Linked DNA regions of Homo sapiens: region 2 is linked to region 1. The links come from fine-mapping of genetic effects on gene expression. Tissue or cell type: lymphoblastoid cells. Region 1 holds a variant in brackets; the other region holds the start of a gene. All regions are shown on one strand. Distances are between the middles of the regions.

Region 1 (5,187 bases):
CTCCCATGTAACCATAAGATATACATGTTTTTAAACTTTTCTCTTTTTCTCATTTTAATCTGTCAGTTTTTACAGAGCGTTCCATCTAAGAATTCCAAAAACAGAAAATTATTTTTCCTCCCCTATTACAAGTTGGTCATTTTTTTCCAAAGCTAAACAAGTCTCACCTTACAATCCAAAAATAACATTCCTAGGTATTTTGACAACTACTTTGATGTTATTTCCCATCAAAAGCTACCATGCAGTTATTTACAGAAGCCCTATTCATAATGACCAAAGGAAAAAAAAGGAATCAGAAAGTCTTACAATAGATGACTGTGTGGGAATCCACTCAGACATCAAAAGTTGTTATAAAGATTATTTAAATGAAAACATTTGAGATACTGAAGATGAAGAAATCTTACCAGAACTTACTTTATCCAATTAAAGCACAGCTCCCAGAAAAATACAGCTGCCATTAACCCCATCCAAGGAGTTTCTTGCAAATTCAGCTGCCATGAAGACAGCGTACTCTTTCCCATTAGCATTGATAAATGAAAATTAAATTCTAAGCTCCCAACTGACTGAACAGACCCACTCTTGGCTGAGGGGACCCCAGAGTAACTTTCAAAACTGAGTTCTCAGCTTTGCTAGGATGGGATGATGGGGTTAAGATACACATCGTTATACCCCCTCCTTTGCTAACCATGATGAGGCTTTCTTCCCTAAGGATTTAACAGAAACCAGCCCTTTCAAAGCCTCCACCACTGATATCAACCTCTCCTTTCTTGCCTGATAAGAGACCACCCACGATGGAGAGGTTCTGGCCAGCGTACAGAGGATGCACAGAGCGAGTTTTCATGTCCTCTGCTTCACCTTTTAATGTCAGAGGGCTGAAAACTCCACCCTGGGATCATGCTAACACTGCCATTTTTTGTACATGGGACCCATGAAGAAGCAAGAAACTCAATTGTGCGTGCATGCATTTCTCCTTCCATAAATATTCATGACTCCTCCTAGAGCTTATTAAATAAATCTATTTGGCCATTCCACTCAGCATAAGTTGCTATTTCCTTTACCTCCTCCTTGAAGCATCTGTTTCTGGCTTCTGGCTGGAGGCTATGCTTCCCAGCCTGTCAGAAGGACAACCCTGCAGGCTACAACCCTTTATAGAAAATAAATCTCTCACTGGGTGGGTGGCTCATGCCTGTAATCCCAGCACTTTGGGAGGCCGAGGTGGGTGGATCACCTGAGGTCAGGAGTTTCAGACCAGCCTGGCCAACATGATGAAATCCTGTCTCTACCAAAACTGCAAAAAATTAGCCAGGTGTGGTGGTGGGCATCTGTAATCCCAGCTAATCAGGAGGCTGAGGCAGGAGAATCGCTTGAACCCAGGAGGTGGAGGTTGCAGTGAACCAAGATCACGCCATTGCACTCCAGCCTGGGCAACAAGAGTGAAACTCTGTCTCAAAAAAAATAAAAATAAGCATAAAAATGAAGAAATGTCTCCTTTCCAAATTTATGAACCTCATCATTCTTCCGTTCACAGCATTAAAAGGTTCAAAAAGACCTTTCCATACTCTCCCACAGAAGCCCTAGAAATTGTCATTTTGTTCATCATTCTGGATGCCTGAGAACTTGTAATCCAATGAGTAGAAAGTTTGGTACCCCATTTATGGCTGTCAACCTGCCAGTTCTCAGGAGTTTGTATAAAAGCCTAAATCCGAAAGGATCTCATCCCATTAGGACCCTTGTCTCCTTTTCTGTTGCCTTTGCCCACTGGCTCTGGCAACAGGGGTCTTTCTTTCTCCTTGGCTATCTTTGGATATGGGGGCTCCGTCTTCTGTGCCACCTTAGGGAATGCCTTTTGCAGGCATGGCTAACTCATTAAAAAGCCTACAGTTTCAGTAACATTTTGAGTGAGCACTCTCTGAAGCTGCGTTGGAATCTCAGGCTTCTTTGTCTGGAAGATAACTCTTGGGCTACAAGTTTCTTATCCTACCTTTGGTTTTGAGGCCTCTCTGTTCTCCTCTTGGGTTGGAAGTTATTCCTGGCTTTTTGTTTCAAGGTGTCTGTGATCTTGATCTTGCTGCTTTCATGGGAACTTCTCACTTCACTAAATTCTCCCTTCTCAAACCTCTGCTGACTATGTGTTCCACCAATATGGAACTAATTCTACTTCTTTTCCTGTTTGCATGACTTTACTAAGAATTATTTACAACTTTAATGGCTCCTTTGAGAAAATTTTTATCTTCCAAATTGCCTCCTTTTAGACCTTTCCTTTCCCAGTTGAGTCTCTCAACTCCCTATAATCACTGAAACTTCAGGCACCCCACTCCATGCCTTGGAGGCTCTCAATGTGCTCAAGAATCTGCAAAAGCAAACACCTGGGGCTGAAGAATAAAATAGAAAAAAAATTATTTCTCAGCCTCCATAAGATTCTATGTCAAAAAAAAAGAAAATCTTTAAAATCTCCAAAAATATTGGTGAGAAAAAAGCCTTAGCCCTCATATGAAGAAGAAAAAACTTGTTCCATTTTCCAGATACATAGTTATAATACAAATATAAAATGGGGCAAAGACAAAAACCAAGTCTTCTATATAAACTAGTGAATTGTGTAGTTATTGTAATCACATTAGTCAGGGGTCTCCAGAAAGGCAGAATCAATAGGATATATGTAGACAGATGACAGAAGATTCATTAGGGGAACTGGTTCACATAATTATGGAGGCTGAGAAGTTCCACAATAGCCTGTCTCCAAGTTGGAGAACCAGGAAAGCTGGTAGCATGGCTCACTCCAGATACAAAGGACTCAGAATCGGGGAAGCCAATGGTGTAACTCTGATTGTGAGGCCAAAGGTCTGAGACCCTGAAGTTCTGATGTCAAGGGCAGGAGAAGAAGGATGTTTCCATTTCAGAAGGAGATAATTCACCTTTCCTCTTCCTTGTTATTCTATCTGGGCTCTCAACCAATTGGATGCTGCCTGTATTCATCCATTTTTATACAGCTATGAAGAAATACCTGAGTCTGAGCAATTTATAAAGAACAAAGGGGTTTAATGGGCTGACAGTTCCACATGGCTGCAGGGGCCTCACAATCATGGCAGAAGGGGAAGCAAAGCTGTCCCTCTTCACATGGCAGCAACAAGAAGTGCTGACCCAAAGGGGAAAAGCCCCTTAT[A/G]AAACCATCAGATCATGAGAACTCACTCACTGTCATGAGAACAGCATGGCGGTAACCACCACCATGATTCAGTCACCTCCCATTGGGTCCCTCCCACGACATGTAGGTATTACAGGAACTACAATTCAAGATGAGATCTGGGTGGGGACACAGCCAAACCATATCAGTGCCCATCCACATTGGGTCATGGTTATCTCAGTGTCTTCCAGAAACACCCTCATAGATATGCCCAGAAATCGTGTTTGACCAGCTGTGTGTGTCTCTCAATCCAGTCAAGTAGACGTCTACGATTAACCATCAGAATATTTATGCCTGATTCATGGCTGAAATCGTGTTTGACCAGCTATGTGTGTCTCTCAATCCAGTCAAGTAGATGTCTACGATTAACCATCAGAATATTTATGCCTGATTCATGGCTGAAATCGTGTTTGACCAGCTATGTGTGTCTCTCAATCCAGTCAAGTAGATGTCTACGATTAACCATCAGAATATTTATGCCTGATTCATGGCTGAAATCGTGTTTGACCAGCTATGTGTGTCTCTCAATCCAGTCAAGTAGATGTCTACGATTAACCATCAGAATATTTATGCCTGATTCATGGCTGAAATCGTGTTTGACCAGCTATGTGTGTCTCTCAATCCAGTTAAGTAGATGTCTACGATTAACCATCAGAATATTTATGCCTGATTCATGGCTGAAATCGTGTTTGACCAGCTATGTGTGTCTCTCAATCCAGTCAAGTAGACGTCTACGATTAACCGTCAGAATATTTATGCCTGATTCATGGCTGAAATCGTGTTTGACCAGCTATGTGTGTCCCTTAATCCAGTCAAGTTGATGTCTAAAATTAACCGTCAGAATATTTATGCCTGATTCATGGCTGAAATCGTGTTTGACCAGCTATGTGTGTCTCTCAATCCACTCAAGTAGATGTCTAAAATTAACCGTCAGAATATTTATGCCTGATTCATGGCTGAAATTGTTTGACCAGCTATGTGTGTCTCTCAATCCACTCAAGTAGATGTCTAAAATTAACCATCAGAATATTTATGCCTGATTCATGGCTGAAATTGTGTTTGACCAGCTATGTGTGTCTCTCAATCCACTCAAGTAGATGTCTAAAATTAACCATCAGAATATTTATGCCTGATTCATGGCTGAAATCGTGTTTGACCAGCTATGTGTGTCTCTCAATCCGATCAAGTAGATGTCTAAAATTAACCGTCAGAATATTTATGGCTGATTCATGGCTGAAATCATGTTTGACCAGCTATGTGTGTCTCTTAATCCAGTCAAGTAGATGTCTAAAATTAACCGTCAGAATATTTATGCCTGATTCATGTCAGAAATCATGTTTGACCAGCTATGTGTGTCTCTTAATCCAGTCAAGTAGATGTCTAAAATTAACCATCAGAATATTTATGCCTGATTCATGGCTGAAATCGTGTTTGACCAGCTATGCGTGTCTCTCAATCCGATCAAGTAGATGTCTGAAATTAACCATCAGAATATTTATGCCTGATTCATGGCTGAAATTTCAGGATGAAAGCTATGAAATCTCTATTTGTGTTTGTGTATCTATTAATGTATGTTATGTATATGTGATATTTTCTTAACTCCAGAGAGCATTGCAAAATTCATTTATGAAATCCTCTAAAAGTGCTCTATTCTAACTTGGCTTGGAAAAAAATAAGCATTTATAAATAAATATTCACCAAACTCCTAGAAATATAGGAACTGATCAAATGTTTCTTAAGTTAACATGATTTGGATAAAACTTAGTTAAATAAGATTAATATAGTATTTTTGGTGTAATAAAACAACTATATCTTCAAAATTATCATTATTGAATATAAAACAAGCATAAATTCCTATTCTGCTTGAGTTCTAGTCAAATAAGCTAATATTATACTTACTAGAAACGTAAAATCTTAAAGCTTATAGATTTGATTCTAATTAAGTTGTCATTCTTATGAAAAACATTATTTTTTTATGCTGAAAAGATACACATATATTTAGAGTTAGC
Region 2 (5,118 bases), 250 kb after region 1:
ATGAGGTTTGGGTCTTGCAGGACTGGAAACAATCAACTCTACCTGAGTGTGTGAGCTTGGGTGGATGACTCCTTAGGGGTCACCTGCAGCCATTGGCTGTGAACTGCTTGTAGGTAAGGAGCTGCGGTTTGCTCTAATTCTCCTCACATTTCGTATCAGACCAGCCTCTAGTTTTTTACATCATGTCTGGTGTATCCAGAAGTTATGCCTTGCATGAGACTAGGAAGCGTCACTATGGATGTTTGTAGGGAGTTTTTATGAGCCTGTAACAAGTAGCCTACCAGCTGTCTCTCCCTAGAGTAATTGGGTGCCTCAGCAGGATCTGGGCCTCCAGATGCTGAGCCCAGCTGGAGGCATCTGACCCTTCTGGGGCACCCCAGAGCTGCAGCCCCTCCCTGTGGCCTGACCAGTCCTGTCTGCTTGTTGCAGTGCAGGCGACCTGGATGGCCTATGACATGGTGGTGATGCGCACCAACCCTACGCTGGCCGAGTCCATGCGTCGGCTGGAGGATGCCTTCGTCAACTGCAAGGAGGAGATGGAGAAGAACTGGCAAGAGCTGCTGCATGAGACCAAGCAAAGGCTGTAGGCCCCACTGGCCCACCACAGCTGCCATGCCACCCTCTGCCCGTATGAAGAGGTCACTGGGGGATGGAGCTGGCACCCACATGAATAGCTGTATGCACTGTACTTGTTTCTTAATAAACTTATTTTTAAGCACAGCCCGAGGACCTCTTCTCTCCTGTGCCATGATCCACCCAGCTGCATATCAAACCTTGTGAACAAAACACAACAAGTGCAAGCTGCAGGTGCTTTCGGTGAATTAAAATGTATTTGGTGCCAGTGGTGCTGAACATAGAATAAAAAACAGAAAAAGGGCCCAGACAGGGACATCCAGGCTGGAGGTTGGAGTGGAGCACAGTCAGATGTATTCACTTTTCTAGCATGGGTTTCAAAGTGCGTAAGGGGAGAAAACGCATCATGGATTGTGCTGTGCATCCTGGACACCGTGCGAGGTGCTCATAGCTGTGATCTTGTCTCCCACAACTCTCTTGGGTGACAGACGTCCACTGTCCACATTTTATAGACAAGGAGAAAGGGAAGTCAAATGTCTCGTCCAAGTCTACACAGCTAAAAAGGGGCAGAACTAGGGTGACGCTCAGGCCTCATTTAGAGATCGGGGGTTGGCGAGAAGTGGGGTGGGCTTCTGGAGGGGCTGGGAGAGCCCCACAAGGCTGCAGAGGGTGGTGAGCCCGGAGTGGGCCTGGCCTGGTGTGGGCTGGGGGTATGGGCAGGAGCTGCAGACAGCAGGGCTGCACCAGCGGACCAGTTTCAGAGGCAAGGGTTCTAGGCCCTTGAGAATCCACAGTGCCAAACAGACCCAGATAGCTACGGGGTTGGTACCTGGGGAGGCCTTAGGACAGGCAGAAAGTCCCAGAGGCGAGGGCGTTGCCTGGGGACGTTTTTGCTCCCTGTCCTGCTGACAGAGCATAGGAAGTGTGAATGTTTTCTACCCCCTCCTCTCTCGGCTCAGCAGAGCTCCAGCGAGCCAAGTCCTTGTCTGTGGAGACGCATCAGTCCCTGGCTCTAGGGAATAGGGAGTCCCACAGACAGGGGGGTGTCAGCAAGCTGAGAGGGTCTGTAAGTAGGTACGGAATTGAGTCAGGAAACAGTCTGGGTGTGGAGTGAGGGGCAGAAAGAGGCTGAGGGAGTCTGGGCTTCAAAATAATCGACAACCTTTAAAGCAGAAGGGGAAAGTTGTCCAGAAACAAGAGCAGGAAGTTCCGATCCCAGCCCCTTCCCTGAGCCCCGGCCTCTCAGGCCCATCCCAGGAGGGTCTCCCTGGAGAGCAGCGAAGCAGCTTTGGTTCTCTGCCTGCCACTCAGAGTGAGGTCTGCAGCCGGTCCTCAGGGGGCAGAGTCAGGATGAATGGACTGAGGACCCCGGTGCTCCCCAAGGGGAAGGGCTGCAGCTCCTTGGCCTGGAACTGGGCAGTCCCCCCAGAGACCGTGAAGGTGGCAGTGACCTGGGGGTTGAGGCAGTAAATGGTGTTGCCCAGGGTGGTGCAGTGCAGTGGGGCGGGGGCGGGCAGGGGCAGGGAGGCAGCCCTGCTCCAGGAGCCGGTCACTGTGTTGTAGCGCATCACGGCGGCGCCCACGCCCCGCAGCAGGTCGAAGCGGTACAGGAAGCCCCCCAGTGCCACGATGTCGCTGGAACGCCGGTGGCTGGCACTGTATGGGCACTCGTCCCAAGCATCCTTCACGGGGCTGTACCTGAGCAGGCGGTAGAAGAGGTGACCCCCGGTGACGTAGATGTCCCCACGGCAGGCCACAGCCTCGTGGGCCACAGGGAAGGTGCCTGCGGGGAGTGGCGCGCGTGGGGTCCAGGCGTCTGTTCGCGGGTCGTAGCACTCCATGCTGTACAGGCATTCGCCACCGATGGCATAGAGCAGCCCGTCCAGGGCCACCAGCTTGAGCTGGGCTCGGGCCTGCTGCATGGGCCGAACCTGGCTCCAGATGTTGGTCAGAGGGTTGTAGCAGAAGACCTCGTTGGAGCAGACGGCCTTGGCACCGGAGCCACGGATGCCCCCCGCCAGAAACAGGTAGTTGTGCATGGTGCAGAGACCGCAGCCCCGAAGCGGGGCCTCCTCGGGCACCTGGGTCAGGGGCCGCCAGGTGTTCTCCCGGGGGTTGAACACATGCAGGTGCGCAGGTAGAGGCAGGGACACAGGGGCCGCCGCAGGAGGCTCCTCGCCACGAGGGCCCCTGGGGAGCCCTGAGCGGCCCCCCTGGTAGAGGCTGGGCAGTACGAGGACGCCCAGCACCGCCCGGCCCCGGCCGGTCCGCAGGCTGAGGATGCGCTCGCGGTCGGCCGCGCTCAGCCGGCGGTAGAGGCACGGGTCTCCCAGCACTCGCAGCAGGTTGTCGCTCATCAGCGCGTAGGTCTCCTGCGCCAGGCCGGGCTCTCCGTGCTGCTGGGCAAAGGCCAGCACGTCCAGGCAACTGCCCAGGTCCAGCCGCCGCCGCAGGGCTGCCGCCGTGGCGGGCTCCAGGGCCCGGGAGCTGGGCTTCCGGGGCCCCTCCACCACCCCCCAACCCCCGGGCCTCTGCAGAAACACCATGAGCTTCCGGGCCTCCTCCTGCTTTTCCGTGAGCGCCCCGCTGCGGCCGGCAGGGCTGCCCCCCTCCCCCGGCGCCTCCCCTTGAGGGTCCCCCGAGGCGGCCGGCCTGACCTCCTGCTCCGAGCTCGGGGCGATTTCGCACCTGCTGCGTTTCCGTAGCTGGGGTACCGGCTGTGAGCGCCTCGCAGAGGAGGAGGCCGCGGGGCCAGGCGGCCTCTGCGCGGGGGGCTGTGCGGGGCCCCTGGGCATCGCGGCTTGGGGCAGCGGGTCTAGACTTTTCTCCCTGGTTCCCTCTCCTCTTAGGCCTGGGGGAGGGTCTGGGCTGGGCGATCCGTTGGTCTCGGAGCTTCTTGGCTGTGGCTGACCTCCAGCCTCAACCAGGCCCCCTGTACCTGTCCCTATGACTGTCCCCACTGAAGAAGAGGGGCCGTGTCTGTCCTCAGAGTGTGTGGAAGTGCTGGGACCCACGGGGCTCCCGGGAACCGCCCTCGGGACACTCCCTTGGGGCCTGTCTTGCCTGGGGAAGGGGTGGCTTCTAAGAACCATGGCAATAAGGTTTCCCCAGCTGGCTGAGACCTGCCCCTCCTGGTAGCGCCTGGGGAGAGCCACACTCTCCTGAGGCTTTGACCCGTCAGCTGGGGCAGGGGATGCGGCTGGGGTTGGGGTTGGGGCTGAGGTGGGGGCTGGGGCAGGGGATGCGGCTGGGGTTGGGGCTGGAGTTGGAGCTGGGCTTAGGGCTGGGGTTGGGACTGGGGTTAGGGCTGGGGATGCGGCTGGGGTTAGGGCTGGAGTTGGAGCTGGGCTTAGGGCTGGGGTTGGGACTGGGGTTAGGGCTGGGGATGGGGGTGTGAGGGTTGGGACTGGGACTGGGGCTGGGGCTGGAGTTGCGGCTGCAGCTGGACTTGGGGCTGGGGCTGGGGTTGAAGTTGGAGCTGAGGTTGGAGCTGGGGCTGGGGCTGAGGTGGGGGATGAGGTTGAGGTGGTGGCTGAGGTTGGTGCTGAGCTGGGGGATGAAGCCAGGGCTGGGGCTAGGACTGAGGCTGGAGCTGAAGTTAAGACTTGGGCTGAGGCTGAACTTGGGGCTGGCGCCGCTCTGAGATTTTCGCCCACGGAAGGATCCTGGGTAACCTCCAGGGGCAAAAAGTCTGAAGGAGAGGGGAGAGTCAGGGCTTCAGGTGGGAACCCCGGGCCGGGAGCTGCGGGCGGGGAGGCGGAGCGCGGGCGAGGCTCACGGCTCCGGGAGGGCGCGCGGCTGTGGCCGGCTGCAGCCGGCTTTGCTTGCTCCGGGGGCCGGGTGGGCCCCAGGTCAGCGGCAGGACTGTTATCTCGGGAGCTGTCAGCCCCGGCCTCGCCGGCATCGTAGGCCCCTGTGGCACCCGGCCCTTGGGACGAGAGTGGGCGACCTTGAGGCGGACTCTCTAGCCAGGGGCGCGTGGAGTCTGGGGCTGGGCCAAAGCTCCGGGTGCCCGGGACCTCCCTGCTGACCCAGGGCCAGCCTCCTCCGGGGGCAGGGACCCCCGAGGCCTCCCTGCTCCAGCCACCCTTGGCCCCAGAGCCTTCCGTCTGAGACCCAGGCTGCAGGGCGCGGGGAGCGGGCAGCGCCGGGAGTGCGGGCTCCTGGGCGAGTGGGGGTCCTGTGGGGAGGCCGCGCGCGTGGGCGTCCAGGGCGGCGGCCCCGTCCACCGCGTCCCACACGCTCCCCGCGGCGCCCAGGCGGAGCGGGTCCAGTTTCCGGGGGCGGCGGGCTCTGTCTCCCGAGCCAGCGTCCATCCGCCGCCGCCGGCCCCGGCCTCTCCCCATCGAGCCCGAGGGCCCCGCGCCCGCCTGCCAGGGGCCAGTGTCCTGTTGCCCCGCGGGGCCTGCGGCCTGGCGAGAGGACGCCCTGACACCACCTGTCTCCGCCTCCGCTTCGCTGCCAGGGCTCCGAGGAGTGAAGTGGATCAGGAGGGGGGCGGACATCCCCCCTGCTTCGCTCCTGCCCAGGAGGGCAGTGCCTGGC

Direction of the effects. Positions count from the first base shown, and alleles are read on the strand shown. Sizes are in standard deviations (SD) of each study's normalised expression.
In carriers of allele A in region 1, the expression in lymphoblastoid cells of the gene that starts at base 2,885 in region 2 tends to be lower than with G alone (large effect, 0.90 SD a copy in GEUVADIS).

Evidence for each region. PIP is the estimated chance that this variant, and not a neighbour inherited with it, causes the effect.
Region 2: it holds the start of KLHDC7B-DT, and the variant in region 1 is fine-mapped to the expression of KLHDC7B-DT in lymphoblastoid cells (GEUVADIS, PIP 0.95).

Annotation. Positions count from the first base shown.
Region 1 is chr22:50,799,138-50,804,324 of GRCh38, reverse strand. It overlaps the pseudogene RPL23AP82. Among named protein-coding and RNA genes, the nearest start is that of RABL2B, 18 kb to the right of the region's middle. The variant A/G (reference allele first, on the strand shown) is at 3,161.
Region 2 is chr22:50,546,714-50,551,831 of GRCh38, reverse strand. It overlaps KLHDC7B-DT (KLHDC7B divergent transcript), which reads left to right and starts at 2,885. Exons shown (of 4, transcript NR_199716.1): 1 at 2,885-2,936. It overlaps KLHDC7B (kelch domain containing 7B), which reads right to left. Exons shown (of 1, transcript NM_138433.5): 1 at 809-5,118. The coding sequence ends at 1,881. It overlaps SYCE3 (synaptonemal complex central element protein 3), which reads left to right. Exons shown (of 3, transcript NM_001123225.3): 3 at 430-720. The coding sequence ends at 587. RefSeq lists silencers at 2,738-2,897, 2,978-3,407.